Linked DNA regions of Homo sapiens: regions 2, 3 and 4 are each linked to region 1. The links come from fine-mapping of genetic effects on gene expression. A gene starts in region 1. Each other region holds a variant in brackets. All regions are shown on one strand. Distances are between the middles of the regions.

Region 1 (8,147 bases):
CTGTCTCTACCTTGTGCCTCTGTTGCCCTGTGGGTATTATAAGGATCAAAATAATACATATCTACCTCAAATGATAACTGTGATGATTAAATAAGTTAATAAGTCATCCCGCAGTATCCATGGGGCATTGGTTTCAGGATACCCCCTCATATCAAAATCCAAAGATATTCAAGTCCCTTATATAAAATAGTGTCATATTTGCATATAACCTACACACATCCTCCCATGTACTTTAAATCATCTCTAGGTAACTCATAATACCTAATGCTATGTAAACGTTATATAAATAGTCATAAATACTTATTTGTATTTTTATTGTTATTTTTAAAATTATTATTTTCAATCTACAGATGCAGAACCCAGGGATATGGAGAGCCAATTGTATTTGTAAAACACTTAGAATGGTGCCTGACACGTGGTATGTCCTTTAAATGTGGGCTCATATTACCATAAAGTATTTAACTAGGTCTCAATTGATGATGTTCATGCTGTTGCCAATTCTTTGCACGCTTTGGCTACTAAAGAAACTTCCAAGGCAAGTTTTGAATTGCCATGAGCTTCTATTACATTTGGGCTCCTTTTTCTTACTAGCTTACCAACACCCAATATTTGTTTGTGAATACTTCATAAATGCGTACTCATGTTGTTAACTCCCCTTAGAGGCAGCACAAAATGTCAAAGTTGGAGTCCAGCAGAGCAGCTTCCAGGCCAGACCCTGGAAGGGAATCCGTTGCAGGTTTTCTTTCTGCAGAGAGGCCATACCAGGAAGGCACATGCTGAGCAGAGACTGAGAAAGAAAGCAGGAAGATTAGGATAGGAGAGGTCAGACAGTAAATCTAACCGGAAGCCAGGCTGGAAAGCAGCCAGAGTATGAGTGCGGGTCAGAAATGTAGGACCAGAGACGAATCTGAGAACAGAGAACTCAAAAGGACTCTTTGTGCATTAAAATTTTCAGAAAGTGTGAATGGCATACCTTCTTGGAGGAGATGCTTCGATCGATCGATCGATCGATAGATAGATAGACAGACAGACAGACAGACAGAAGATAGTTCTTGAGAGAAGAAAAATGGCTTAGAGCAGTCTGAGCTATATGAGGTATGCAAAATTTATCAGGCCCAGAGAGGGGAGTATGGGGCTCAAGTCTTGCTCTGCCTCCTTGAACCCACACCTAGAAGCAATCATGTAAAGGCATCTTGTTCCTGACTAGCTGCCTCATCTGCTATCTTTATGGTCCTGGAATTTGTGATTCACAGAACAGTGTAGAGCCAATCAACAGCTTGTGTTATTTTCATGGAAATTCTTGGCAAACAACTCAGGAGCTTCCTCTTCCTCTTCTTTTCCTTTGAAAACCTACTTGTACCTGCTGCTAACCAGAGCGTATACTCAGGGCCACTTGAAACTATGCTCTTGGGTTGCAGCCCTCAAGCTTGGCCCAAGTAAATGCTCTACTTATATTAAGTTGGCCTCAGTTGTTCTTTCCTTTAGGTTCACATTCTCATCAACCTGTAGGTACAAATGAGGTTGTTAATATTAATTCCAAAACTACAAGATTCTTTGCTCCTCTTACTCACATGGGAACTCAGTCTCCTCCTCCCAAAGTCCCCTTGGGCCATTTTTGGGGACTGGAGGAATTCTCACATGCTCGGGGACAAATGTGCTCACTGTGGTCTGCTCTATCCTTCTCATCAAGATGCCTCACCTACCTGAGCCTCAGTGGCTGAAGACAACTTAGCAGGTTCTCCCTGCTGCTGCCTCCTCACAACCCATATCCAGGAGAGGTGCTTTTTGCTGTGCTCCTTAGCAGAGTATGTGTAGGGTGGAATGTGGGGTCAGAGGAGAGAACAGCCCTTATCCGTCTAGAGTCTTTTATGATTTAGGTCCTCTTATTTCTCTTCCTAACGCCAGTCTGCTGAGGTTCAAAACGTGTCACCCCAGGCTGGATTGGGGAGAGGGAAAGAAAGACATATACCAGCCACCTGCTCCTTGTCCTTGCTGCTTTATCTCTAGTCATTCAAGAACAAATATTAAGCAGCCATTGTAGTAAATTGAATGGAAAACTAACTCCAATTGTCTGCCCCTCTCTGTCTCTATGCCCTTTGCAATGGGACACTAAGTTCCTCCTATTATGAAGTGGAAGCTCTCCTCACCCCTTTAATCTGGGCTGGCCCATGACTGGCTTTGATCAGCTGGATGTGGCTGAAATGATGGGATGTCCATATTAAGCTGTACCTCCAGAGGCCTCGAGCTCTTCCACTCACTCTTGTGGCTCCTCTGCCATACCCTGAGAAGAGCCTGGTTAGACTACCAGCTGATGAAATACGGCCTCAGCCAACAGCTAGCTCCCAGCCAGCCCCCTGCCCAGAAAAGCCCAGATGCATGGCTCTGCCAAGCCCTGTGTAGATGACCTGCTTTTACATGAGTGAGGTCAGGGGACACCTGAAGATCCATCCAGCTAAACTACAGATTTGTGAACCAAATAAAGTCTCTGTCATTTGAAGCCACTGGGTTTCTGTTTGTTACACAGCATTATTGTGACAAAGGATAAACGATACCAACCTATTTCTGACCTCCAAAATCAAGGCTTTTTGCACATTCAAACATTCCTCCGAGAAGCTCAACAAATAGCCAAGTTCTAATTCTCAGTCTGGATTCAGCTGGGATGCCCTGCTGCCCTTACAACGGCCCAGTGGCAGACAGGAGCAAGATGGAAGGATTTTAATTCAGCAGATGTCCAGGAGGTCTGAGGGAAAGCTAGTCAGCCCACTGGGAATGGCACACATGAGGAGTTTGGGGATAGGAGTGCCCTACCAATCTATAATTCGTATACAAAGATCACAGTAGGCTTTGTGTGACAGCACTTCTTATGGAAACTGGCAAGGGAGGCCAATTTCCTCAGTTTGGACTCAGTTGGGACTGAAATGAAACACAGAACAGCAAGAAAAATGGGGCAGGAATCACAGAGAAAACATTGAGCTGTCCCAAGTCCTGGAATGGTGGCTCCGGACAAGTTTATCTAAAATCTCTGAGGGCAGAGAAGCCCCCTCAAGTGGGAATTTGAGTTACATGTTATTAACCTCAGTCTATATCCTGTCTCTAAATTTCTTTTAAAAAAAAAACAAAAAAAGAGATGGGGTGTTGCTATGTTGACCAGGCTGGTCTCGAACTCCTGGCCTCAAGCAGTCTTCCCATCTCAGCCTCCCAAAGTGCTAAGATTACAGGTGTGTGCCACTGTGCCTTACCTAAATTTCTTTTATTATACAGAGTTGCTTTGTCTAATTCTAGCCCTGTGGTAGCTACCCAAGATTGTTGTAACCTCCAGTGATCAAGTTCTTTGGATAAGCAAAGAGGGAGGGCATTAAGTGTGTGGAAAAGACCCCTCCTCTCCACTCTTGTTGCAAGGCAAGTTCTTTTCCTTAATTGTCCCCTGACTCTTCTACGTTGTTTCTGGAAGCTTTTTTTTTTTTTTTTTAGAAGTAGAGTCTCACTCTATTGCCCAGCTTTGAACCCCTAGACCCAAGAAATCCTTCTGCCTCAACCTCTTGAGTAGCTGGGACTACAGGCACATACCACCACATCCTAATTAAAAAAAAAAAATTATAGAGATAGGAATCTCCTGCTATATTGCCCAGGCTGCTCTCAAACTCCTGGCCTCAAGTGACCCTCTAGGCTCGGCCTCCCAAAGTGCTTGGATTACATGCATGAGCCACTGCAACTGGCTTATTTCTAGGGACTTTGAATGGAGCCTGCACACCAGGGGCAGGTGAATGGAGGCTGAGTCAGCCAGTCAGGTGAAAACTGAATGCTTTTAAACTCTGAAGTGTTCCACTGGACTGTGTTGATGGAGCTCCTTTCAAACTGGGGCCTGCCCTTGCCTGCCAGTCAAACAGAACTGTCCACAGTCTAGCAAATGGCTGTCGTACATCAATAGGCCATTCATTGGAAATCTAATGATTGGCAACTGGGACCACAGGTACAGGGAATGCAATAGAACTCAAGCTGTGGTTGAGTTCTTGTTCTGTCTATCCTTTTGAGTGATGAAAAATGAGGCCAGATCTAGGCAATTTTTTCTTTACATTGAAAGCTTAGCCTCTTGATCCTGTTGGGGCTGGAGCGAGTGTGGAGTTAGGCTCAGAGAAGTGGTTAATGTACGCTTTGCTCCTGATAGCTGTTTCTGAACATTCTATAGTTATAGTTCTATAGGTGTAGGTTCCTAGTTGTTTGGTGTCTGGCCCTGTGGGATTTAGGGGGTGGGGGAATATGGGCTTGGTATTTGAGAACTGGGTAACAGAGATGGTGGGGAGGTTTGGGCTCTGGATTTGTTGGTTTGCATATTAAAGGAGTGCTCACAGGCCAGTTGTTTGCTCTCTCTAGGAATTAGCTAACCCTCAGAGAGGCAGTCTGTCTCCAAGTCCATGAGGTCCCCAAAGGTCAAAGCATCATACAATACAGAAAATAAAAAGCATGATTAATACTGCAGGCTGAGAGGATATGTGTTCCTGCACTGTCAGACCAAGCGCAAGAATTGTTGGAGACATGTTACAGCTTCTCTGCCTTCTCTCAATGTTACGCTGTTCAGGACTCAGGATCCTGCCCTCTGAGGGTTTACAGAAGTCATTCTCACTATCTCACACTGGCCGTCTTGACCCAGAGCAGTTCTTTACTTTCTCGGGACACAAACGGGATGAAAGTCCAGGGCTGGGACTTCCTCCTTGGAATGTTTGACAAGGACTGACGTACTCTAGGCCCTTTGAATCCCGGAAGTCCAGGACACACCCAACCTTGATTACAGTGTCCAGAATGCTGGAGCGTAGGTGAAAGGACAAAAGCCAGACACATTTCAACATGAGGGACCCACTGACAGATTGTCCGGTGAGTAGCTCAGTGTGGTTTGTGTGCCTGCGTGTGAGGAGGGTGGAGGGTGGATTTGTATATTAATGGATTTTAACTTAAGAAATTTGAGACACTCAGAAACCAAACACATTTAGATATTGGCTGTGGTGCAAAAGTTTGTGGTTTTTCTTTGGTTCAGTTTAAAAACAGAGCTTTTTCTAGGAAATGACAGGGCAGGTAATTGTCATCTTTCCTTCTCATATTCTTGGAAAAAGTTTTGAGAGAGTAAAGCCTCATATTTGGATCCAGATGGTGGCTGTTTGGAAAACATTCTTAAGACATACACCCATGGTGCCAACATCATGTGTGGTGTGGATACAAAAACACACAGAATGTCTGCAGCCAATTTTTGGCTCTGAGAATAAAGTGAGGGAGGAGAGTTTTTGTGCCTTTTCACCCTCATTTTTTGGAGTCAAGGATCACAAGTCCTGCAGGAGGAAGGATAGACTCCCCACTCTGCCTGGCCTGCAGTGGCTCTCAGACTGGTTTAGCAGCATGTTTGTTCCATGTTTGTTCGTTTTGGTAATGTTTGGAGCACTACCAAAAATATAAGTTTGGTCAGAAGTCCAAAGACATTGTGAGGTCTCCGGCGGCAATAGCAGAGATGTAATTTAGGAGATAAGAAGCAACTAAAATAAAGGGGGGGATATGTTTACTTTGAAAATAAAGTAATTAAGGAGGGTCAGTGTTTTATCCCAACACATGGGGCTGAAAAGCTAAGATTGGTGACATCATAAGCAGGAGGTTGCAGTCATCCTTCATGTATTGATAACACAAACTGTGGGGCGGCAGATAAATGGGCGCTGAGATAAAGTCATAAAGAAAAAGATCAGCAGAGGATTATTGATTTCCTTTTTGTTTATTCAATGGATAAGAAAAGCACATGGTTGGAAAAAATGGAACTATAGTTACTATTGCAGAAAATCAGATGAGCTAAATGAGATGAACTCATAAATGACTAGTAATTTTAATAATGACAACATAGTAGCCAATTCTGCCTAATTTTCCTTTTTTTAAATACAGAAATAATTTGTGCTTAATGTAGAAACAAATTCCAATGATATGGTTATATATAGATTTTTAAGAGTGAAACTTCCCCCTTTAATTACTTCAATCTCAGTGTTCTCTCCATTGTTAATTGTGAATAATTTTTAAGAAGTCTTTTATCATTTATTTTTCTCTCCTTGAGGTTGCTCCCTGACTAAACTGTTAAATCCTCTCCTGTCTCAACACTCCTACCTCAATGTTTTTGTATAGGGGCGGCAGGCCAGGACAGGGATGGGGTAAGTGGCAGCAAAATCTTGGCACTAATAGTAACCAAAGAAGAAAATTAACACCAGGGAAGGGTGCAATGGACAGAAGACAGGGAAATGGTGGGCAGCTTTAATTAAGTTTAAAAAGAGAAGAAGAAATAAATCCATAAAAAAGAAACTGAAGGTCTAACATCCTTTTTGTAGACAGCAAAGTCAAGTCTTCAGACGTGGAGAAATGTTTTCTTTCAGCAGCCCCCAAGGCAACCCATAACCACACTTCTGTGTCTGCTTAAAGCTCCACTCCCTGGCATGCTGAATAGTTCCTTGTGCTATGCTGGGCCAAGGACTCCTGTCCTTGTCTAAAACTTTGAAGGTCATCTGTATGGGCTCATTGCCACCAAAAGTATCCGGGAGTCATGGGGAGGGCGGATATCCCTTCAGCCTGGGTTTCCAAACCCTCTAAACTCACAGAACATTTATTTATTTGCAATTGTTTCATCTTAATCAAGTGTTCAAGTTGATTTCCTGGCACATTCTTAGCTTGTACTTGGGGAACAATGCTATGTGAAGATGAATCTGCGGTTTGGGAACAAAATAAGACAAGGAAATGGATTGCAAATGAGTGCCTCATGAAACATTTAGGTAGTTTTATAAAAGAACCCAAAGCTTTAACCACCTGCAAAATGTCCCCTTCCATGAGTCCCTAGAGTTGCACAGAGCACAGTTCATAAAGTATTAGCTTAGCTACTGTTCTTAACCGGGCCCACACCAATGTACCCATGTATGGAACTCAGTGGGTTGCATGAACTTCAGTGAAAAAAAATCTCTATTTGTACTAATTTCTAACTGAAATTTAGAATTTTATTCAATCCAGAATATAGGCAACAAGCCCCAATACTATTAGTCATATCTGTATAGTGTCTGTGACTTTGTAACCAATAAAAATCAGAAATTTTATGATAACATTACAGTTGTTGCACATATCTAGAAATATTTACATTCACCCTGACTTCAAAATGTTGGTAATACTTAAGATATGTAATTTAGTATGTTAATAAAAAAGCACATAATATCATAATTTTAAAAATACATTCTAAAAAATATATAATTCATTTCCTTTTTAACCCTACGCTACTTAAAAATGTTATTCTGAATCAAATAGGTTTCATGAGACTACAAAAAGGGCTCATGGTACGAAAAAATTTAAAAATCTCTTTTAGATCAAGCTCTAATGGGCAAAATAGACTGACAGCTGGGCCTTTCAACCTCAAAGAGCAAGGTCAGTGTTTGAGTTCAAATTGTTGCCAGGGTGGCATAAGATTGCCTAAATGCTGTGTAGGATTAATCTTGAGAGTGTCAGAACTTATTTGAAAAAGATATCTGTAAGATATCTTTAAAGTTCTGTTTTTGACAAGGAAAAGAATTGGCTCTGGGCCTTGATGTTTCATTGCCTATGAAGGTTTAGGTTTAGCTCTTAAACCTAAAAATATGTCTAGGGAACTCATCTTCAAATCCATGTGCAAGAAAGGCGAAGTAAGATCCAATTATCTCTAAGGGAAAGAATCCAATCATAAGAAAGTATTAATAGCACCTTCCTATCAAACAATCACATAGAAATCAAGGACAAGTAACAAGCTGTAGCCAAATTTTTGCTTTTTACACACTCATACAGTATCCAGGAAGGGGTCTGTCAAAGCAAGTCTTCTGGGCGCCACACAGTCAGCCCCTCCCCGCATGTCATCGGCCATTGAAATGGCACCAGGCTGCTCCTCAGGTTGGTAACCTGGCTCAGATGCCAACCTGAGCTTCCCATCTTGGTGGCTTAGCCTGGATATCAGACAATGACTGTCACTAACTCAGATGGTGCCGGTGCCATGGTCCGTAGCTCCTAGGAGAATCTGACTCGCTGCAAAAATACAGAAGGAGGCTGCATATGGCATGGGTGTCACGTGGCCCACAGCCTCCCCAGTGTGCATCAGTGAGATGTGTAACATGCCATTCCAC
Region 2 (8,147 bases), 100 kb after region 1:
ATACACACATCTGCATACATATTTATATATGTATGTACACACACACACATATACACATACAAATATATTAGCCCTTTCTAGAATACACATTATATATATTTTCTCCACCTTAAATACACTTTCTTGACATTGCCACTATATAACATGATCTCTGTGGAGAAATGCATTTTGAGTTTGCACTAACCAAATAACATAGTTTTAAAACACAGGCTCTTTATAATTTAGTACTCATATCAACTTTGTTCAATAATTCATTCACTCAATAAACATTTACTAAATAACTATGATGGGCCCAGGGGCAGTTCCAGGTTTTGTGAAATCTAAAGCCCCTGTTAAATGGCTTTATATAGGCCCCTCTATAAAGCCCCTGTTATATAGGCCCTCTCTTTAATAAAAAGAAAATAAACTCGTGAATGCACTCTAAACTATCAGTAACCACCTGCCTTTTTTTTTTGACAGAGTCTCACTCTGTAGACCAGGCTGGAGTGCAGTGGCACGATCTTGGCTCACTGCAACCTCTACCTCCCGGGTTTCAAGCGATTCTCCTGCCTCAGCCTCCCGAGTAGCTGGGACTACAGTAGCCCACCACAATGCCCAGCTAATTTTTGTATTTTTTTTTTAGTAGAGATGGTGTTTTACCATGTTGGCCAGGCTGGTCTTAAACTCCTGACCTCAAGTGATCCGCCCACCTCGGCCTCCCAAAGTGCTGGGATTACAGGCGTGAGCCACTGCGCCCGGCCCAACCTACCATCTTAGGCGCCCGTGCGAACTTTTCCAGCTTCATGGGTAATTGGCTTCTACACGGGCCTGTTATGGGAACTGTGCTTGTGGCTGTTGCACAAAGTGGACAGGACCCCTTGTTTTATGGAGCTTATACTGTAGTACAGGAGAGAGATGCTAAATATATACACTTGTCATAAATATATAATTATAAATTGTGTTTAACTCCCGGTTATGGGCTGAACTGTATTCCCTCAAATTCATGTTGAAGTCCTAAGCCCCAGTACCTCCCAAAATGACTGTGTTTGGTGATAGGGTCTTTAAAGGGGTGATTAAGTTAAAATGAGGTCATTAGTATCTTCCTTAATCCAATAAGACTGGTATCCTTATAAAAAGAGGAGATTAGAACACACCCATATAGCGGGGAAGACCATGTGAAGACATAGAGAGTAGACAGTCATCTGCAAGCCAAGGACAGAGGCTCAGAAGAAATCAACGCCACCGACGCGTTGATTCAGACTCCTAGTTTCCTATATTTCTGTTGTGTAAGCCACCCAGTCTGGTATTTTGTTATAGCAGCCCTAGCAGACTCAAACAACCCCCTAGGAGAAAAGAGTGTGTGAGAGAAAGTATTGTCAGAGGAGTGGTGAGGATGCTGGTCAGAGAAGGCATCACCGATGGATGCATAGAAGCTAAGATATGAAAAGACTAAAAATGATGAACTACGAGGAATAAGCAGATTAGCAGATGCTGTTAAAGGGTGAAAGAAATCAAGATGCTTTTGCTTCACTTAATTATCCCACAGTCTACAGAACCAGGTAGTTCTCGAGAGAAAATCTTTCTAAATTAACTACCATAGATGAAAGGCTAATCACAGACTCTGAGGTGCTGAAGAGCAGGAAGTTTAATTTTTAAGTGGAAGACAAAATGTATTTGATATCATTCACATCCTGATTTAAGGATAAGACATTTCTGAAGAAAATGAGTATTATGAATTACGTAGATCAAACACTTTTTAGAAAAAGAATAAAGGGAAGTTATGCTCTTCCTCATGGCTCATTAAAGAGATTATGGAAATTACAGAACCTGAATATGCAAAACAAAGAAAAGCCAGAAGCATAGACTCTAATTAGTCAAGGATAATTCCTTATATGAATTGCCTTAGTGCAATGATTCTAAGCCCCTTATACCACATTGGAACCACTTGAGAAGTATTTTAATAATACCAATGCCCAAATTCCATTACCAGAAATATAACTGATCTCAGGTGGAACACAGTTATGGCAATTTAAAAAGCACCCCAAAAGATGTTAATGGTCAGTCAATGCATTTCTTCCAGGTAAGGTACCAATAGACACTGAAGCCCAGTAACAATGGTGCTGTTAAATGATGGGACACAAAACTCGAAGAGAAGTTCAAAGTGATAGTTATAGCCTGTGAAGGACTCTAGTGAAGTCTTTTGTCTTTACTTAGGCCATGGTAAGCAAAGACAAAAATCTGAATGACAAAATAACAAGTAAGGTTACCTAGATCCATCCCTGGCCACCTTGTGAGGCTTTGTTGCTTTCCCACTAATCCTAGACACAATCCAGCTCTCTAAACCCAACATCTCTCTGACTTAGATCCATAGCCTCTTTGTGCTACCCTTCTGTTCATTCTCAGTCTACCCTGGTCCATAGTCCAGGGTCCAGTCGTAGTCTATAGTCCAGGACCAGAGTCCTGGTCTATAGTCTAGTCATAGTCCACAGCCGTAGATTATGGACCTATGACTTAGATCCACAGCCTCTTTGCGCTACCCTTCTGTTCATTCTTAGCATTTGTTTGGTGCTTTCCACTTCTGTTTAACACTCTGTTCTCAACAAACCATTTTCCTGATTGGTCAAAAGCCCTTTGATGTCTATTCCTATCTTTGTCACATGAATCATTCCCTATTCCTCTCAACTGTATTCTCTAGTTAATAAAAGATACAATTTGATCCTAACACATTTCTATTATCCAAATGACTTTCATTTCTGCTTTCTTGTCTTATAGTCAAAAAACAACACATTTCTTTCCCTGTTCCATATATATTCTATCATTCTCTTGGATAAAGAAAATTGAACTATTCTTATTTTAAATCAGTGATCAGAACATAATCTGTCATATCATATATTTTTCATACCCAGATATTTATTCAACCATTTTCCTCAAAGACCCAATAAAATAGAGAGCCACAGCCTATCTTAAATTAAAATGCAGGGCTTTATGGGCTATTTGACATGCAATAATTATTTGCAAAGTCTTTTCACCAAACATAGAAATTGCTAATGTCTGACCTTGGAGGAAATGAACTGTACAAAAAATTTCAAGCAAACATGATCCAACTGTTCGCACAAAAGGGAGGTTGCATAAGAAATTCATTGTGTTTCTATCCAAATTTCCCCCTCGAATTGCCACAGATCAGCATGTACTTCACTCTTTGCCACCAATTAAAATCATAAATAGATGAGCTATTCAGCAGAGGAGGGCTGGTGTGCCCTCTCCACAGATGGTCAGCATCACATGTTGCAGTAATGGCTCGACATGCCACAAAGGCACAGTATAAAAACGGTGGGAATCAGAGCACTTCAGCTCCAATTGCTCTATGTTTAGAATTGCCTCTTTTTCAAGATGGATTTCCTTCACAGGAATGGAGTGCTCATAATTCAGCATTTGCAGAAGGACTACCGAGCTTACTACACTTTTCTAAATTTTATGTCCAATGTTGGAGACCCCAGGAATATCTTTTTCATTTATTTTCCACTTTGTTTTCAATTTAATCAGACAGTTGGAACCAAGATGATATGGGTAGCAGTCATTGGGGATTGGTTAAATCTTATATTTAAATGGTAAGATTTCTGTTTTATTTCATTTTTTCCTAAGATTTATCCTTAAATTTGTGACTTCGGCATAATGATCACATTTCAGATGTATATCGTTTTACTTGGAAAATCTTTCAAAAATACCAGGTAACTTGAAACACCAGATTCATAAGTAGAACTTTTAAAAGGCACAGAAATGTATATATATGTTTTTGTTTT[T/TG]TTTTTTTTTTTGAGACAGAGTTTTGCCCTTGTTGCCCAGGATGGAGTGCAATGGCGTGATCTCGGCTCACTGCAACCTCTGCCTCCCAGGTTCAAGCAATTCTCTCACCTCAGCCTCCCGAGTAGCTGGGATTACAGGCATGTGCCACCACACCCAGCTAATTTTGTATTTTTAGTAGAGACAGGGTTTCTCTATGTTGGTCAGGCTGGTCTCTAACTCCCGACCTCAGGTGATCCACCGACTTCGGCTTCCTAAAGTGCTGGGATTACAGGTGTGAGCCACCACGCCAGGCCAGAAATGTGTACTTTAATGACTTATAAGTAATTCCCAAACCCCTGTAACACATATTCTGTGATTAAGAATTACTTACATGAGCAGCGTGATAATGAACAAATTGATAATTCTAGGGACAAATTTTGATATTTCCAGTCTAAGTATCCAAAGCACCCATAAGACATTCCCTGCAAGGGAAAAAAGCCCCCATGTTCATGGGAAACCAGGGTGCCAAAATACCAAATGGCTACCACCTTTAATAATGTGTGAGAGACCAAGACCTAAGTTTTTTCAAAGTCTCTTAATCATGAACTTTCACAATTAACCCTGCGCTTGAGTCATTTTTTATAGGAAAGAATTGCTAATCTCCAATTAAATAATAGCTGTGTATTTAAATATATATGCATGTTTATAATTCTTTAAATACAGGATATTATTTGGTCATCGACCTTACTGGTGGGTCCAAGAAACTCAGATTTACCCAAATCACTCAAGTCCATGCCTTGAACAGTTCCCTACTACATGTGAAACAGGTCCAGGTAAGCTATTACAGCAGGCTCCAGTTACTGAAGATCTTCCAATAGAGAATCATTACACAGGGTTATCATCTAGGAACTGATATTATATAGGGTAGTAAAGAAAATCTCATGAGTGAGGATGCTAAAACTTCATAACAATCAAAATTACTAATGAGGAAGCAAAGCAAAAAAAATACTCAAATTCCATTTTGTTATTTATGAAAGGGTAGATTGGGAGAAAACTCCCCCAGTGATTAAATATTTGGTGTTTACTTTTCAGAAGAATATAATGACTTGATACTAAAACAAGAAACAGTTAACTAGAACAAATTCTCAAGGAACTAGACTAAGATCTTAGAAATGTTGGTTAATCTGCTGCTAAGCAACTTTCAAAGTTACTATAGGTCTTCCGAGTATCTCACGAATGAGGGAGGAGTAGACAAGTCTTCTGTAAGAAAGGTAAGGACTTCTCAATGTTACTATAGCCAGTAAAGACTATTTCTAACCCTAGAACAATCTCTTTAAAACATATTTTTTCTCTGTACACAAGTAGGCTTCTTGGGCCACTTCTTTTTTATTCTAGGTAAGATTCTGTATGAGTATAAAATCTTTATTGTGATAGTTGATTCTAAGACTGTTTTAAAAAGTTTTTTGAAACATATATTTAAAAATTACATTTTAATTTATAAGAATGTGTTATATTGTACCTCATCATTTTACATAGCATAACATTCTCGCCAGTTGACATCCTTCGAAACTAACTTTGAGTAAAGGGTAGTAGAGAATGTGTAAATTCTTAATGAGTGTTCTGAATATGTCTTTTTTGTTCCCATAGAAGTATACATACATCTGTTATATCGCTTATTACACTAAATGATATTAACTAATTCTTTATATATCCGATTGCCTAGACTGGGTGTTCCATCAGGGGAGGGATGATGCATAGTTTATCTTTGTGAAACCAAAGTGTGATAAATGGATGAATGGTTGGATGGGTAACATTTGAGACCACCGAAATGTTATCGTGGTCAATTCCAGTCCTTTCCGGCATGTGTTCCACCTTATAAGACATTTTCTGGAAAGAGAGAGAGAGAAAAGAAAGAAAGACTGCATCTCTCGGGGAGATTTACAATTTTTTAAGGCATAGTTTTTAAAAGGCTCTGAAAATTCCTGCAGATAAGAAATAGGTCTGTCTTTGTTTAACAAATAAGAGACTGGTATTTAATTTGAATGAACTACCAGGTGAAAAATCGAGGAGGACATTTAAGGAAACTAATAAAAAATTCAGTAGCATGGAAAAGGCATTCTGGAAGTAGAAAGGCTTTTTCTGCTAGGATTAATGCCGTCTTTATAGCTTCTCCTCATCCTCTGTTTTAAAACAAAGATTCTCACTGCAGTGGCCACAAGATAGGCATAGAAGTAGCTGCTAGTACACAGCAGTCATTTGTAAGTCAATCAGCAAATCACTGGCATAGCAATGATATCCTTTAGAGTTTGACTTCTCAGCCCAAGGAAAATAAGCCAACTGAAGATCCAATACAAGCATTAGGGTGGTGCAAAAGTAATTGCGGTTTTTGCCATTACTTTCAATGGCAAAAACCGCAATTACTCTTGCATTAACCTAATACTTTTGCTTGTCAATTAAAAACAACCAAATATTGAAGAATGAGTAGGGCTGTGGCAGATTTGGGTGCAACTGCCTGAGTTCTTAATTAGCCTTGAGTATATTGATTTCTGGAATTCAATGAACCTGAAAATCTGGGAAAAAAATTTTTTGAGACAGTGTTTCTCAGGCTCAATTTAACTCAATTTTTCTTATTTCTACCCACTTCTAAACATTACATATAGCCTGTGTCTTGTCTTTTTTTCTGAGTTACTCATAATTTTCATGGGGAATATGCTATTCTATTATTCATTTCTGATCTTGATAGTTAACCACTTTTCAAATGGACGGACACTTTGTTGTTGCAGGAAGTCCATCTGGCCATGCAATGGGCGCATCCTGTGTCTGGTATGTCATGGTAACCGCTGCCCTGAGCCACACTGTCTGTGGGATGGATAAGTTCTCTATCACTCTGCACAGGTCAGCTTTGCTGCAGTTTCTGTAGCACTGGAATATGACAGTTTTTAATACAGAAAGTCTTGTCTAAAAATTAATTTTAGTGCAGTTTTAGTCAATGAATAAAATGTGCTTATTCTATTCTTTCATAGACAAAATAACAAAATGAATAGAAAACTAATATTTTGCTTTAAGATAATAGCCTAATTAGCTCATAGCTATTTCCACTTTTCAAGTTGGAAATGTTTAACTGATTAATGACTTGCTAAATGTGCCTCTGGGTTTCCAAAATGCAATAATTATTTTGATAACTCATAAATAAGTCGTCTAAAATTATACAGCATAAGGAAACATTTTTGCATGCACATTCCCTTGCTTTAAAATTAACTGGAAGTTTTGAGAATCATCATTCTCCTTGACTGCATCAGTTTATTCAGTAAAATTATGCTTCCTTCTTCGAATAGCCAATGCTTTTGATTTCAGTAACATATATTCCAGCTTTATAGAGAGCACAAACTTTTTAATTAAAAACATTCTGGAAGCAAACTTAAATTTGAATGTTAGTAGATTTAATGTTAGTAGGTTTCTTAATGTTTAGAAAGATCTAGAACTTAAAGGTTACTCACAGTTGCTTAGAAATTGGGTTGTTTCCTTCTCTTCTTTCCTGAAATACTTTGTCATTAAAACAATCCTGAGTACCAATTTAGCCATAAATTAGGTGACTTGAAATTAGATTTGCAAGTTAACCTTAAAAAAATACTGTAACATATGCCATTATTAAAAAGTTTTCTAAAATAAAAAAAGTCAAGATCTATCACATATTCCACTTGTTAGAGTAGTATTGGATAATATAAAAAACAAACAACTAAAGGAATTTGGGTGTCTTAAAAGTTTATTCTAATGAGACTGTGACCTGTATGCCTTAATGTATTTATTGCCCAACCCAAAACAACAACATAAAAAGGTGCTATAATGTAAAAAAGTTAGCATTTTCTATTTACAGACAATTTTCAAAGTAGGAATCTAGGTCAGTTTCACCTTTTCTCTATACTGTATTCCTGCCTCCAATGACCAAACCTGAAAAAATATGTTTCTTCTAAGAAAAAAATTCTCATAACTCCTTTTTAGTTTTTATAACTGCAGTATTTTCTTCATCTATAAAATTTTACTGAGTGTGTGCTTCTTACCTTTACATTACCAAATTCTTGTTTATTCTTCTTCCACATTGGTATCCCACTTACTTCTTCTTTCAAAGCCTCATTTCTCTGTGTTCCTTAGCATTTATATAACCAAATTTCAGTCTGATTATCAGGAACAAACCATTCAAGGATTCCTAGAACTCAATACTGCTAACACTTTTTTTTTTCAATGACATGCATTGCTTGGATTTTAATATTTTTTTATGTTTTTTGTGCATTGCTGTTTTTAATCCAAAGTGTATAACCTATAGGTCAATTCCCCTGTTCTCTATTTTCTGTGTCTCAAAAAAAAAAAAACAAACAAAACAAAACCCAAAA
Region 3 (8,147 bases), 59 kb after region 1:
CTCCTGGCTGTGTCCCACTGAGACAGTGTGAAAGGTGACTGAGAACATGATTTCATTTTCAGGCCTGGAACGAATGCTTAAAACGTACTCCAGCACCTCCTCCTTCTCTGATGCAAAGAGCCAGAAAGACACAGCAGCGTTAATGGATGAGGTAAATGTTTGCCGAGTGCATTTCCTAGATGTAGTGATGAAAAGGGTTATTTTTAGAATACTTGTTTCTGGTCCACTTGGCCTTGTTTGCCTTTCCTTTCTCATGACATAGAACAATCTAGTGGGGGAGCTTATAGGGTCAGCTTCATAAGTCATTTGAGGGATCTGGAAAAATACAACTACCTAGAAATGTTTGCTTTGGTGTCCTAGGAAAAGAATTGTGTCTAAAATAGTATTCTCCAAACAGAGTCGTTCTTTAAGGGCCTAGAAACCATGTGCACTTTAACCCAGTTAAGAAAAGCGACAGGAAACAAAGGATCTGCATTCAGAAAGGCCTGTATTTAGATTTAGCTCTGCTGTTTACAGGGACCTGGGTCAACTTTAGTTTTCTCATCCGCAAAATGGGGATATTGGTACTTTACCTCATGGGGCTTTTGTGAGGGTGAAATATTATTTAGTAAATACCAGCACAATGCTCACAGGAGGAGCTCAAAAACTAGTAATTTTTATTAAGGTGGTATTTTCCATTCATCCCTCTGCTGATCTCAGGGTTATCGGAGAATAACAGGGGAAAGGAAAGACGTGGTTGCAGAGGGAATAGGGCAGTCTGGTGTGTGAGGCAAAATCTGGGGAAACCAGGAGCAACTTTGAGGGCAAAGTTCTTTAAGGGTGGGAATTGGGGTGGGGAGATGGTAGAAGAGGCAGGGAGGTGGGCCTCCTGGCCTTTGTGCTGAGTGTGTGAACTCTAGCCCCATAGACATTCGTGGGGATTGATGGACATTTTGGCCACTTCAGAGGAAGGGAAAGGGATAGTTAACAAAAAGCTGATGAATTTTACACAGGAATAAAAATGAACAGATATATAGCACCAGTGTGCAACATATGGGTTTCTGCTGTGATTAGAGATCATGAGTGGACTGGGGTTAATCTGAGAATCATTTAAGGAGATAAATTTTTTAGCAATGTTTTGAAGGTACAGGAATCTGGGCGTTTTGTTTTTCTTGCTTATAGCCTAACTTTCTTGTGAAGGTAGGTACTTGATAATTGTACCCAGATTGGCAATTTCAATAGTTCTTTGGTGAAAGAAGACAGATGCAGTGAGGTATCGCTGACCTAGTTTTTAGATAGGCTTTCTTGAGTAAGGTGCTGTTGCAGAAACAAGCCTAACACTTCTTGTAAAAGAAAATAGCCTGCATTGTGTGCACTGGGTAACAGAGGTCTAACATACCTGCAATGACCCGTGGCTACAGTTTTTATGAAATTATAAAACAGACTGTAGGACATTTTCTGTGACCGCACAAGCTGTTTAGTTAACTACTGATGCCATTGGGTTATACATCTATTCCTTTGGCTGTCCTTGCACAGAATTTTGTCATTGTCATTACCAGCATACATGTATTAGGATCATCTGGGTCCTCTCACCTGAAGCACACAGTGGAGGACACAAGGAGGGAGAGCATCTGACCTTGGAACTTCCAATGTTTATGATCTGGTGAAGGAGCAACTATGAACCTTTAAGTGAGGAATGCCAAATATCCACATGATTTCATTACGCATGCTCTGCATCTGGGTAGACAGAAACTAGTGATACTGGTAGATTTTGTGTCACCCACGGAAGGTTTCTAGGATGAGGAAACTTTTATTTACATTCTTCCTTATTTCATTATATCTTGGTCCTTGAAGTGCCATGTTTGAATCAAGAATGTTCACAAGCAGTGTCATAAGAAAAATTGTTGAGAAAACTGGAGGCACTTAGATTAAATACTGTCTTTAGAGACCAGAAAGAGGGCCACATAGAAGAAGAACTAGATGTGCTCTATGAGACTATCAAGTGAAGGTCTAATGGTAGAAAGCATGGGGGAGCTTTTAGTTTTGTCTTAGGTAAGCCTGCCCCACAATGCAGTGGATTCCTCCAACGATTAGAGACTTTCTCCATCAATTGGATGTCTTCTGTCCATGGCTGTGACACCCTGGCAGGGATATTAGGGTTGGGAATTCCCATGCTGGAGGTGTGGGGGAGAGAGGGATAATGGTGAGGAGGGGGCTGGATAAGCAAGACCCTTCCAATGCTTAGATTCTGTTATTTAATTCACCCTGGCTGGACCCAGCCTGACAAGGTAATTATAAAGTTTCTAGTTCAAGGTCATATCAAGAACAGACAGAGACTAGGAGTGTATCTTTAGCTTGACTTATTATGTTTATACTCAAATGCCCTAAAATATTGTTCCCAGTTTCCAGAAGTATTCCTGTAAACTTTGTGGGTAATATAAGACCTCACCTTATCAAAGAACAAACAAACCTCACATTCAATTTCATTTGCGTCTATTGATGTTAATTCAATTCTGTTCACAATATTTAGCACTGATGGCTCACCTTCTTCGCAGACCACCAAAAATCTACCTTCTACAATCAACACTTATCCCCTTTCTTGTCCCTCAGCAGAAAATTGAGTAAAACCTCTTCATTGCCATAAAATACTAATATATTACCAAGGTTTCCTGTTCACCCCCAGAGTACAGAATGAGACACACTCAACAACTAAAACCTCCCTCTAAACTGCTTAAAGAGTTTATTCCTCCATTTTTTTTTCCTTCGGCATTTTCTGTGAATATCTGTATGAGTTAAATGCGTACTTTTCTAACCTTTGTTATTTTGAAAGTTATTCTGATATTCCTATCCAGTTGTGCCTCATTTACTAGAAATTTGCTCACATGGCCAAATGATGTATCCACAGAACAATTTGAAACTAGACCTTTTGGAAGCGAACTCCTACAAACTGTCATCAATGTTAGCAGAACTTGAGCAAAGACCTCAACCCAGCCATCCTTGTAGTAATTCCATCTTCAGGTGGAGGGAAAAGGTAACATTTAAGGAGACTGGTTGTAATTTCTTGATTGGGCCTGCTGGGTGGAGTGGCTTAAAGTAGCATCAGGGCAAAAAAGGTGTTAGGAATTCTATGTGATATTAATATTCATGCAGTTAGTTAAGAAGATAAATGTTTTTATTTTTCTTTTGAGCACAATAACAAGAGCTAGACAAAACCGAATACATTCTGTGTACACCAAACTTCTATGAGAAGCTAAAAAACACTTTTGATTTCTTCTTTCTCATCATACCTGAATTTCATCCTTTGGATGTGCTTTTACAGTAAAATTTCTATTAAATTGAAATTTTAATATTCGTTCAGACCTAAATTATAAGATTTTGTGGTATGTATTAGTCTCATCTGTTTAAGATGGTGCCTAATGCAGATAATGCATCAGTACAGCTCTGAAATGCTTGTAGCTATTTTTATTACTGATCAGAAGGGGGAACTGTAATCATCTTGTGAAGGGACAGTTTTCTAAGGCTCAAGAGCTCGAAAACAATCTCAATCATTTACAGGGTTGTGATCATTTCACTTGCATTAAGCCAACTAAAGTTGTATTTGTAAAAGTAATGCTATGAATATTACTATTTGACCTAGACACATAGGTTAGAATTGGAAACACAGGCTATAAAGTATAGTAATTGTGTAATTGTGAAAATATTAAGGCTTCAACTCAAAACTGAAACACAGTAGGGCTTAGAAATCTTTGAATTATTTATACCCCTCAGTTTAAAAACTTCCAGTCCAGGCGCAGTGGCTCATGCCTGTAATCCCAGAACTTTGGGAGGCCAAGGCAGGCGGATCACCTGAGGTCAGGAGTTCGAGAGCAGCCTGGCTGACACGGTGAAACCCCGTCTCTACTAAGAATACAAAAATTAGCCAGGCATGGTGGTGGGCACCTGTAATCCCAGCTACGGGGGAGGCTGAGGCAGGAGAATCACTTGAACCCGGGAGGTGGAGGTTGTAGTGGGCCAAGATCATGCCACTGCACTCCAGCCTGGGTGACAGGGCAAGACTCTGTCTAAAAAAAAAAAAGAAAAAACAAACAGAAAAAACAACTTGAGGAAAACAGCTACAGAAGAGTTAATTTTCATGAATGTTTATGATAATCGTGTTACAAAATATGACTTTTTATGTCATTTGAACAGGAGCATACTCATAGCTATGTGAAAATATCTCGGCCTTTTTTAATGAAGAGATTAGAGAATATTGTGAGCAAGGCATCTTCTGGTGGGCAGAGCAATCCAGGTTCTTCAACTCCAGGTAATCCCATGCCCACAATCATTTTGGCCTGGGTCCTACTGGCAGGGCACATTGCTACATTTAAATTTTAGTTTCAGAGCCACTTTGACCTGTATCTGTTTAAGGAAATTTATATTTCCAT[T/C]GGGACCGATTAATTTGTTAGACTCTGTAGCTTTATGTAAAAATGGGAAAAAGTTAAGAAGAGTAGAGGGTTGGGAAAGTATCCTATGAGAAGTTGCCTCAGATATCAGATGACTGGCATCCACCTTATTCAAATGGCCTGTTATTTGCCATAAACATAATCACACCTAAACCATCGTGAGGAGCTTTGTCGCTCTGTCTCCATAGCCTCCTCCAAACTCCCATAAGAAGCCTGTCCTCTCTGCGAGACACATGGTGATCCAGGTGGTTTGCCAGGGCTTGGACTCATGGCCTACAAACTCCTGTTAGCAGCCATCTGACTTCAGTCATTCATGCACCCACACACCACACTGCTCTTCATCTTTCAGCACACACACACGTGTCACTGTACCTGCATGTTCAAGTATAATTACCATAATCTTGACTATCTAGTTTTTTAAATTAGAAATTGGTTTAAAAAAAAAAAAAAGAACTTCAGTAAAACCAGGACATTATGGTTCACACAATATATTAAGGAGTCACTGTTGCATTGTTTGAGAAACAGTTCCATACACAGCTAGGGATGATGATAACATGCACATGCCCCAAATATCCCGTATTTATACCTGAATGGCAAAACTGGTGAATGTTTTCCAAAACATGCATGCAATTACTATTATTATACAATGATGTTTTTCTCTAGACTTGCTATTTCATGTATTATAATATAGTTTTTGGTTATATAACATATGCAGTCCATACATATAGAAAGTGCATCATAAGTGGTTATTGAATCAAGGAATGAACATTATATAAAATTACAAACTTTCCTTTTGAGAAAAATTTAATATATTGAAACTCTGCATCACACTGTTAAATAACCAAAGAGCTTCAGCTCATATTCATTTGCCTGCTAACACAGCATACTAATTACAGCTTTATCTATTTCAGCCCCTGGTGCAGCCCAGCTCAGCAGCAGACTTTGCAAGGCCTTGTATTCTTTTCAAGCCAGGCAAGATGATGAGTTGAATTTGGAAAAGGGTAAGAATCATTCTCAAATATTTTAATTGCCTTCCCATATTGAGATTCTTAGCATGAATAAAACCCTGTCTTAGTGTGGCAGCCTTAAGAGTTACTACCATGTCAAATCAGTTCACCCTTCTTGAAAGATAAGCACATCTAAAACAAAAGCTCGCATAATGATAATAGCTAACGCTTATTCTGTTTACTGTGTGTCAGACATTGTTGCAGGCCTATTGTCCAATTTAATATTCATGAAACCCTTGGAGGGTTTTATTGGTATTCCCATTTCATAGCAGAGGAGACTGATACACAGGAAGGTTAGGTGCTTTGGCTAATGTCACAGGCTGTGGCAACACAAGATTTGAACTTGGAAACACAGTCATGCTCCTAATCACAGTGCACACTAGGGTAGAATGTCAGTGATGGAAAGTGATTAGAGATGTACCCCACCTTTTTATTTTTTAGAAGCTAGACATTCAGGAATGTGAAGTGACCTCCTCTCTCAACTTAGTGTAAGTAAGTGCAAATTCTAGAACCTAGGTCAGCTGACTCCCAGCTTAGTGCTGGTCTCACTTACTTCTCAGAAAAGCTTTTTACAGCCAGTCTAAAGAGTGAGATCCCCTTCTTTGTGTCACAGAGTTTTACTTAACATGGAAAGGTATTACGTAGTGGCTTTATAATGTAAACCACAACATTATTAAAGAAGAAAGTCTCCAGCCTCAACCTTCTTTATGTGTCCAGTTAGAAACCATGTTTGAATGTTAGCGCTAATGCAGAGATCTGGAAACGGAAGGGTTAGTGAGAAAGAGTAACGTTATGGGAGAAAGAATATTATCCACGACAAGGACATGGCTCCCAGAGCCAATGGAAAATCAAGATACATTTTGTAGCCAAACGACAGGGACACCACACATTTGCTATTTATTGGGTGTTTCCTTTGCAGCATTTGCCAGTCATATCTCTCCAGGCAATTACTTTTCTTCCTATGTGAATAAAAGACAGACATACTTCCCAGATGCCACCTAGAACCCATGGATGCAGCATTTAAGTTACATCATTCACAATAAATTGATTATCTTGTTTTCAGTTCTCTGTTGGTTGCAAAGCCTACTTATACTTTATATTCTAAGCAGTTTCTTTAAATGAAACACGACGTTGGAGCCTTAGGGAAGCTGGCAATACAATTTGAAATCATTATTTGTTTGAATTCTTGTTAATAGATTATGTCAATTTACTGACGAGGGAGAACTTAGAGACCGAGAATAATGTCCTTTAAGAATAGTGATTTATGACTAAGAAAATGTAGAAAAGATAGAAAAGGAGTTAATAATTTCCTTTGTCTTAGAAAGAAAGTTGCTGAGGAAAAGAGTGAAAGGAAGACTGAAAAATCACCTCAGAATGATGCCAAATAAAAAGTAGCTCTTGGATCCTGACGGGGGCAGATGATCCTGAAGGGGGCAGATCTTTCTACTTTTATGACAAGAGCCATGTTTCTTGTCCAATTCTCTATGGAATTCTCTTTATTTGAATCATTGCTTTAAAAAATATTGTCTCCAAATTGATGTTGTATTAAAGTTGTCTAAGTTGTTGAATGGGGAGTTACATTTTGAATGGGGAGTTACATTTCTGTGCAAAGCTGTGAGTGAGTTAAACTTTTGGCCTGTGAAATCAGGGATAATGCAGAGACATTGTCTTGATCTTAAGAAAAGACTGTTGGTGAGACATACTTATAGCAGCCAACACGCCAAACAATCAAAAACACCAGCATGTGAAACCCTCAAAGTACGGACACCAAGAAAGAGTTTGGTGACAATCCATCAGCTACATAGAAATAGAAAGTGAGCCAGGCAGCATAAGGATATATGATCCAACGTGATCTTTTTTTATTTTTTTTTTTGAGGCAGAGTCTTGCTCTGTCACCCAGGCTGCAGTACAGTGGTGTGATCTTAGCTCACTGCAACCTCCGTCTCCTGGATTCAAGTGATTCTCCTGCCTCAGTCTCCCAAGCTCACTGCAACCTCCGTCTCCTGGATTCAAGTGATTCTCCTGCCTCAGTCTCCCAAATAGCTGGGACTACAGGCGTGTGCCACCATGCCTGGCTAATTTTTGTATTTTTAGTAGAGACGGGGTTTCACCATGTTGGCCAGGCTGGTCTCAACCTCTTGACCTCAAGTAATCTGCCTAATCTGCCCATCGCGGCCTCCCAACGTGCTGGGATTACAGCTGTCAGCCACCGTGCCTGGCTGTGATCCTGTTTTTTTTTTTCTGAGACAGAGTCTTGCCCTGTTGCTGTTGCCCAGGCTAGAGTGCAGTGGCATGATCTCAGCTCACTGCAACCTCTGCCTCCCGGGTTCAAGGATTCTCCTGCCTCAGCCTCCTGAGTAGCTGGTATTACAGGCGTGCGCCACCACACCCAGCTAATTTTTGTATTTTTAGCAGAGAAGGGGTTTCACCATGTTGGTCAGGCTGGTCTCGAAACTCCTGACCTTGTGATCCACCCACCTTGGCCTCCCAAAGTGCTGGGATTACAGGCGTCACCCACCACGCCCAGCCAATCCTGTCTTTAAGCAATTATTTTATGATATATCTCAGTTGTTCATTATCTTACTCTTTTTAGTATCCTCTGGATTATGCCTGCTTTATACACAGGTGTTCGATACATTTGGCTTCATCTGAATCAAGTGCAGAAAATGACACTACCAAGTAAATCCTTGAAGCAGAACCTCCTTAAAACTCTTATCAA
Region 4 (8,000 bases), 81 kb after region 1:
ATATATATTTGGCATTTCCAAAAGGAATAAAATAGATGCCAGTTAGCACTGTTATTTAATATTTCCCTAGAAGTTTCTGGCCAAGACAAGATATTTAGCTGGTAAAACTATAAGGAAAAAACAAGAACTATTTTTCATTATATGTAGACAATAGACATCTATCTAGAATACTCAGAAAAATCTACTGAAAACCTATCAGAATTTGTGGTACTACACCCCAAAAAAATCAATAGTTTTTGTACATAACACCAGTGATTAATACATAGGTAAGAATAGATGTTTATACTAATATTAATAGCTGCAATATTCGTTTTTGTTCTTTGTTTTTATTGGTTTTATTAGTTTTTGCTATTCTGTGCTATTTTTAAGTACTGGCATACGTTGGAGATATTGCAAGTTCTATTCCAGATCACTGTGATAAAGCGAATATTGCCATAAAGCAAGTCACACAAATGTTTTGGTTTCCCAGTACATAGAAAAGTTATTTTACACTATATTGTAGTCTATTAAGCGTGCAATAGCATTATGGCTAAAAAACAAATGTACATATCTTAATTAAAAATATTTTATTGCTAAAATATGCTAATAATCATCTGAGCCTTCAGCAAGTCCTAAACTTTTGCAGGGGGAGGGTCTTGCCTTGATGTTGATGGCTGCTGACTGATCAGAGTGGTAGCTGCTGAAGGTTGGGGTGGCTGTGGCAATTTATTATAATAGGACAACAATAAAGTTTGCTGCATTAATCAACTCTTTCATGAAAGATTTCTCTGCAGCATACAATGATGTTTGACAGCATTTACCCCTGGTAGAACTGTTTTCAAAATTGGAGTCAGTCTTCTCAAACCCTGCGCTACTTTATCAACTAAGTTTATATAATAGTCTAAATCCTTTGTTGTCAGTTAAACAATGTTCACAGCATCTTCACCAGGAGTGGATTCCATTCCATAAAACCACTTTCTTTGCTTATCCATAAGAAGCAACTCCTTATCCATTCAAGTTTTATCTGAGATGGCAGCAATTCGGTCACATCTTCAGGCTCCACTTCTAAATCTAGGTCTCTTGTGATTTCTACCACATCTGTAGTTACTTTCTCCATTGAAGTCTTGAACCTCTCAAAGTCATCCATGAGGGTTAAAATCAACTTCTTCCAAGCTCTTGTTCATGTTGATATTTTGACCTCTTCCTGTGAATCACGAATGTTCTATGGCATCTAGAATGGTGAATCCTTTCTCTGGAAGGTTTTCAATTTATTTTGCCCAGATCTATCAGAGTTAATCACTATTTGGGTAGCTATAACCTTATTTCTTAAATAATGAGACATGAAAGTCAAAACTACCCCTTGATCCATGGGCTGCAGAATGGATGTTGTCTTAGTAGGCATGAAAACAACACTAATCTCCATCAGCGCTCTTGAGTGACCAGATGCACTGTTAATGAGCAGAAATATTTTGAAAGCCATCTTTTTTCCTGAGTAGAAGGCCTCAACAGTGGGCCTAAAATATTCAGTAAACTATGCTATACACACATGTGCTGTCATCTAGGCTTTGCTATTCCATTTATAGAACATAGGCAGAGTAGATTTAGTATAATTCTTAAGGGCCCTAGGATTTGGGGAATGGCAAGTGAGCACAGGCTTCAACTTAAAGTCACCAGGTGCATTAGTCACTAAAGAGTCAGCCTGTCTTTGAAGCTTCAAAGCAGGCCTTGACTTCTCTCTAGCTATGAAAGTCCTAGATGGCATCTTCTTCCAATAGAAAACTGCTTTTTCATCTACATCAAAAATCCGTTCTTTAATGATCTGTTCATTCAATGATCTTAGCTAGATAACTTGCTGTAGCTTCTACATTAGCACTTCTGCTTCATCTTGCATTTTTATTTTATGGAGGCAGCTGCTTTCCTTAAACCTCAAGAACCAACTTCTGCTAGCTTCAAACTTTTCTTCTGAAACTTCCTCATCTTTCTCAAGCCTTCACAGAATTGAAGAGGGCTAGAGTCTTACCCTGAATTAGGCTTTTGCTTAAGGGAATGTTGTGGTTTGTTTGCTCTTCTATTAAGGCCACTAAAATTTTCTCTAACAATAAGGCTGTTTCTCTTTCTTATCATTCGTGTGTTCACTGAATTAGCACTTTTGCTAATTGGCGCAAGAGGCCAAGCTTTCAGCCTATCTCAGCTTTTGACACACTTTCCCACTAAGCTTAATCATTTCTAGCTTTTGATTTAAAGTGAGAGACCTATGACTCCTTCTTTCAGTTGAACAATTAGAGGTCACTATAGGGTTATTAATTGGCCTAATTTCAATACTGGAGACTAGGGAGGCCCAAGGAGAGGAAGAATGACAGGAATGGCTGGTCAGCAGAGCAGTCAGAAGTCATTCAACATTTATCCATTAAGTTTGTCATCTTATATGGGTGTCATTCATGGCACTTAAAACAATTACAATAGTAACGTCAAAGATCACTGATCATAGAGCACCACAAGAAATATAATAATGACAAGTTTGAAATCTTGTGAGAATTACCAACATGTGACAGATACGAAGTCACCACATGCTGATGGAAAAATGGTGCCCACAGACTTGCTTGACACATGGTTGCCATTAACCTTTAATTTGTAAAAATTGCAATATCTGTAAAGTGCAATAAAGTGAAGTGCAATAAAACAAGGTATCCATGTACCAAAATACTGGCCTTTTACATCTGTCTCACATATTGGCCAGCACCTCATTACTCCTTCTTGGCTTTAATCTCTCTACCTTCCCTGCCTTCCCCATGTCCCTGTCACTCTCTGTACAAGTTCTTCTTGCCCTAGCCCTCTTAAACACTCAGCTTCTGCAACTACCCACCCCTTTCTCACACACATGCTCAAAATAAAAACAACAATGCCTGTGCATAAACCTGGCCAAACCTCTCTGCTGGGAAAGGAGTAACCCTGGCAGGACCACTTCTTCCTCTGTTTGTTGGAAGAAAGATACAACCGCTGCTACTTGGGGCCCATTGCACAGAGATGGTGTCCCCAAAATGCCAATCAGGGGGCTAGACAAAGCAGGAAGGCACAAAAAGCATAAGAGCTCTAGGGCAGAGGCTACTGAGGTCAAATAAGCAGAGCCAGTAGAGCTCAAGTGGTGCTTTATAATGTGCTTATGAATTTCTGAATTAAAGATTTAGTTTTACTAATACTTAAATGAAATCTAAACACTTTAAAATCGAATGCCAATTAATGCCAGTAGTCTAGAATTGTATCAAATAAACCAAACTATCTATACTGTCATTTAATTCCAGTATCATAATTACAAGTAAATATGTGCTCCAAGGATGAGTAATCTTTTTCTCAAAGTTAAACAAGTTAGTCCATCACTGAATTTATGAAGACTTTAAATACCATAAATCTTCAAAAGAGAAATACACTATGATATGTTTCCCAAATTGAAGTGAGCATGGAATTCTCAGTGCTTGAACAACATCTCTCAAGACAAGCATTCCTCAGGCAACAGGAAAATCTCGTTTACAGAGGTAACAAACAGAAAATTCAGAATCAACCTAGATCAAGAAATATGTAGGCTCTGTTTGAAAAAAACTGCAAAGCTTGTCTGAGACACATATTTGATCTGGATATATGAAGAGATATTTTATGCTTCTAAATATTATAAAAGATATGCCAAACAAACGTTGGCAGTTAGGAAGTTAATATGATAAATGAAATATCAAATCAATGTTCAAGAGGTAGATTATTCTCTAAACAGTGCCGAAATCCAAAATAAATTCTTTAGTCTTTTACTACTTTTTTAAAAGAAGAGGAAAAACACTCAGCAGTTCAGTAACTTGCCCAAAGCTGTATTTGCTAGGCTAAAATAAATAATAAGGGCCAGGCATGGCGGCTCACGCCTGTAATCCCTGCACTTTGCAACGCTCAGGCTGGCGGATCATGAGGTCAGGAGATCGAGACCATCCTGGCCAACATGGTGAAACCTCGTCTCT[G/A]CTAAAAATACAAAAATGAGCTGGGCGTGGTGGCGTGTGCCTGTAATTCCAGCTACTAGGGAGGCTGAGGCAGAATAGCTTGAACCAGGGAGTCGGAGGTTGCAGTGAGCTGCGATCACGCCACTGCACTCCAGCCTGGTGACAGGGCGAGACCCTGTCTCAAAAATAAATAAATAAATAAATAAACAGACAGACAGACTGCATTCAAACTCAGGTCTTGACTTCAAAGGCAATGCTTTGCCCATTAAATTATCCTCCTCCAACAATGGGTTACCATTTTAATCTCAAGAGGAAGACACAAATACAAATTCCTAAGAAAAAAACAGACAAAGGGATAAACAGATGAAACACAGAATGCAGATGGCTAATAAATATGAAAGATAATTTAACCTCAGATTAATCACAGAAATGCAAGTAAAACAGTAAGATTTCAATTTTCATTTATTACAACAATGTTTACAGAAATAATTACTAATATTGAGAGGAATGCAAAATGCTAGGGTCCTTCTAGAAAATATTTTTGACATTGTAAAATAAAAGAGCCTTAAAAATATTTACCTCCTTTGACCCAGCAATTTCATTTTTACAAAGTTACCCTAGGGAAATAGGATACGTGCAAATATTTATATATAAAAATTATTTTTCAGTATTTATAATGAAAAACTGAAAACATCTTCAATGGCTAACAAGCAAATGATTTTTAAAATATGGTATATCGATAAGATGGAATGTATTTTCAAAACAATTTAGCAATGTGGGAAAATATTCTCAAAGTTGAAAAAAAAAGATAGTTATATAGATACCATGAATATAATTACGTTAAAAACCTACATAGCTCATGAAAAACAAAAGCTAGAAAGTTGTTTTGTTAAATATGGTTCTCAACATTACAGGTGATATTTTTTGCTTTTCTGTATGTTCTAAGAATATGAACATGATCATATATTACGTCAAGTATAATTTAAAAATAAACATCTTACTAGAAAGAAAAATGCTACTATTTAAAGAAAAAAATTAAGTAGAATTGTACTACACAAGAAATTCAGATTGAAAGTCAAAGGTCTCAAGTCTGATTCAGCTTATCAGTTCTTACCCAAAGATCTCGGTCAAAATCACGACTTCTGAAACTCTTTTGCTCATTTGTAAAATGGGGATAACATTGGCTACCTCATTCACTGGGGTTAGAGTATCCAGTAATAATAATACAAAAACTTTTAAACTAGTGACACATAAATACCACATATGAGAGTGTTTTTATTATAACATTTGAAGAACTGTGTGATTTGTGGCCAATACAAATATAGGAGTCCTCGATGCTGTATGACCATTTTTTTTTCTTTTTTTTTTTTTGAGATGGAGTCTCGCTCTGTCGCCAGGCTGCAGTGCAGTGGTGCAATCTCAGCTCACTGCAACCTCCGCCTCCTGGGTTCAAGCAATTCTCCTGCTTCAGCCCCCTGAGCAGACAGGACTACAGGCACTCACCACCACGCCCAGCTAATTTTTATATTTTTAGTGGAGATGGGGTTTCACCATGTTGGCCAGGATGGTCTTGATCTTTTGACCTCGTGATCCGCCTGCCTCGGCCTCCCAAATTGCTAGGACTACAGGTGTGAGCCACTGCACCTGGCCTGCTGTGTGACTATTATTACATGTGTACATAGCAGGCTGTCTTATTCCCAGGACCGACATTTCAAACTTTCACTCCTACACACCAGAGGAACCCTTCTTTGCATTTTCACTCCAATGCACGTCAGTATAGCACAATGGAAAGAGCACAGACACTATCATTGTGATCCTAGATCCTCTATTTACCTTAGGCAAGTTTCTTAACCTCAGTGAGCTTCAATTTCCTCATCTGTAAAACAGGGATAATCTCTGTCTTAGACAGACTTCAGGATTTATAATAATGTAAAAGCCTGCCCATAGTAAATACCTCTCACTTTCAATAGATGATCTTCCTTCTTGTGATAATTAGAATTTATGGCTCCAGAACTTTAGGCTATTTTGTTCTCTGCAGTATCTTCCTAGAAGATTACCTGGTATACAGCAGTAGCTCAACAAGTATTTGGTCAGTGAATGAATTCCTTCCATCTTTCTTGTTCCCAAAATATCTATCTCAATCTTTACCTTACTGGATCTACCTGTGACTTACAGTGTTAACAACACCCTTTATTATTTCTCTCCTCTTTTAGTTTTGGTGACCTTCTCTCTTACTTCCTCTGTTCTCCAATTACGAATTCTGTCTTTCCTGGTCGTTTCCATTTAACTCTCTCAAATTGGAGAGGAAATGTAATGCTCTGAAGATGAGTAAGGCTTCTGGAGTTAATCTGATGATCTGGGGCAAATCATAATCTCTCTGGGACTGCAATATCAGAAAAGTAGGAATAATAATAATAAATGATACCAACCCTGGAGAACTATCATGAGGACTGAAGGAGGTGGTCAATGTAAGGCATTTAGCACAGTACCTGGCACACAGTAATGAGTAAATAAATATTATTACTAACCAAGGCTACCTTCTTTCACTCTACATATTCTTCCACAGCTTCAACCCCCTAAATACACTAAAGACTCACAAATCCCTATCTTCAGCAAAGACCACTTTTCTGGCTGGCTTCCAGATGAATATATCCATTGCCTATCAGATATCGCCACCTGAAGACTTGCTGCACAATAAACTCAGCATATTCACCCAACATGTTTAAAATTGAACCCACATATGTTTCCTTCCCACCTATAAAAACATGCTCCTCCTCTCTTTCAATCCCTCACTTAGTAAATGCATCACCACTGATTCATACTCCATGTCAGAAGGAATCATCCTAGACCACAGCATACTCTCACCTTCAGGCCCACAGTCTTGAGTCTAACTCTTCAGACCTGTCACTGGTCCAAGCCATACTCATTATGTGCCTGTACTATTACACTAAATTTTTCCTTTAACTGGTCTCTTTATGGACAACAATCTCACTCCCCTCCTGTTTATTGTGCATGATTACTAGATTGCTTCTTCTGGCATATAAATCCAATATCATTTTCCAGGTTGAAATCCTGTAGCAACTCTTTATCTCCTGAAAAACAAAGTCTAACCCCCTTTGCACAACATGGAATGTCCATCATCTGGCCAACGAGTTCTTCCAGCCACTTCTCCACCACTCCCCATCCACAGGGTACTCTAGCCATCCCAGAACTTAACAAGCTCTCATGTTCCTGCCATATTCCATGTGCTGTTCCCTCTTCCCAGAATGTAATGCTGACTCTGTTGAACATCCCTAACCCTCCTTTATGTGATTTTCTCCAAAGTAGTGTGGTATAATCAGACCGCAGGTTCAAATCATATTTCTGTTCATTATCAGCTATCTGACCTTGAGAAAGTTGCTTAACCTCTCTGTGCTTATTTTGTCATAAAAAAGCAGTATCTATACCTCTTAGGGTTGTTGTGAGGATTCATGAGTCAATATATGCAAAGAGCTTAGAACAGGGCTTAGCACATGGTATACAAGGTAATGGTTAGCTATTAAATATCCTGCATTCCTCACTGGAAGAACCAAACCCTCCAGATTCTATCCTCACACAGCATCTATTACATTATTCTAACAACGAATACAATCTTTTTTTTTTTTTTTTTTTTGGAGACAGGGTCTCACTCTGTCGCCCAGGCTGGAGTGAAGTGGCATGATCACGGCTCACTGTAACCTCAATCTCCTGGGCTCAAGCGATCCTCCTGTCTCAGCCTCCTGAGTAGCTGGGACTACAGGTGCCCACCACCACACCTGGCTAATTTTTCCTTAATTTTTATTGAGACAAGGTCTCACTATATTGCCCAGGCTGGTCTTGAACTCCTGGACTCAGGCAATCCTCCTGCCTCAGCCTCCCAAAGTGCTGGGATTACTTTGGCTTGAGCCATCGAGCCTGGAACAATATATTTTAATTGTGGTTTCCCTATCTATATCCCCCACAATATTGTGAGTAGATTATACTTTATGCACTGTTGTCTCCTTAGTGGTGGGCAATAGCAGTCATATG

Alleles and levels. Positions count from the first base shown, and alleles are read on the strand shown. Sizes are in standard deviations (SD) of each study's normalised expression.
With allele T in place of TG in region 2, the expression in pancreatic islets of the gene that starts at base 4,833 in region 1 is higher (large effect, 0.88 SD a copy in PISA).
For the expression in subcutaneous fat of the gene that starts at base 4,833 in region 1, C is the high allele of the variant in region 3 and T is the other (moderate effect, 0.44 SD a copy in TwinsUK).
In carriers of allele G in region 4, the expression in lymphoblastoid cells of the gene that starts at base 4,833 in region 1 tends to be higher than with A alone (large effect, 0.93 SD a copy in GTEx).

Evidence for each region. PIP is the estimated chance that this variant, and not a neighbour inherited with it, causes the effect. A credible set is the group of variants that fine-mapping cannot tell apart.
Region 2: its variant is the best candidate, but not a certain one, in a credible set for the expression of NOSTRIN in pancreatic islets (PISA, PIP 0.72).
Region 3: its variant is the best candidate, but not a certain one, in a credible set for the expression of NOSTRIN in subcutaneous fat (TwinsUK, PIP 0.56).
Region 4: its variant is the best candidate, but not a certain one, in a credible set for the expression of NOSTRIN in lymphoblastoid cells (GTEx, PIP 0.89).

Annotation. Positions count from the first base shown.
Region 1 is chr2:168,797,805-168,805,951 of GRCh38, forward strand. NOSTRIN (nitric oxide synthase trafficking) reads left to right here and starts at 4,833. Exons shown (of 16, transcript NM_001039724.4): 1 at 4,833-4,869. The coding sequence starts at 4,843. RefSeq lists enhancers at 655-949, 4,277-4,776.
Region 2 is chr2:168,897,963-168,906,109 of GRCh38, forward strand. It overlaps G6PC2 (glucose-6-phosphatase catalytic subunit 2), which reads left to right and starts at 3,329. Exons shown (of 5, transcript NM_021176.3): 1 at 3,329-3,587; 2 at 4,483-4,592; 3 at 6,543-6,654. The coding sequence starts at 3,370. The variant T/TG (reference allele first, on the strand shown) is at 3,780.
Region 3 is chr2:168,856,628-168,864,774 of GRCh38, forward strand. It overlaps NOSTRIN (nitric oxide synthase trafficking), which reads left to right. Exons shown (of 16, transcript NM_001039724.4): 12 at 63-151; 13 at 2,885-3,010; 14 at 4,168-4,282; 15 at 5,333-5,422. It also overlaps a transcript of SPC25 not described here. Among named protein-coding and RNA genes, the nearest start is that of SPC25, 30 kb to the right of the region's middle. The variant T/C (reference allele first, on the strand shown) is at 4,404.
Region 4 is chr2:168,878,466-168,886,465 of GRCh38, forward strand. All of the region lies in intron 3 of SPC25 (SPC25 component of NDC80 kinetochore complex), which reads right to left. Among named protein-coding and RNA genes, the nearest start is that of SPC25, 8.0 kb to the right of the region's middle. The variant G/A (reference allele first, on the strand shown) is at 3,975.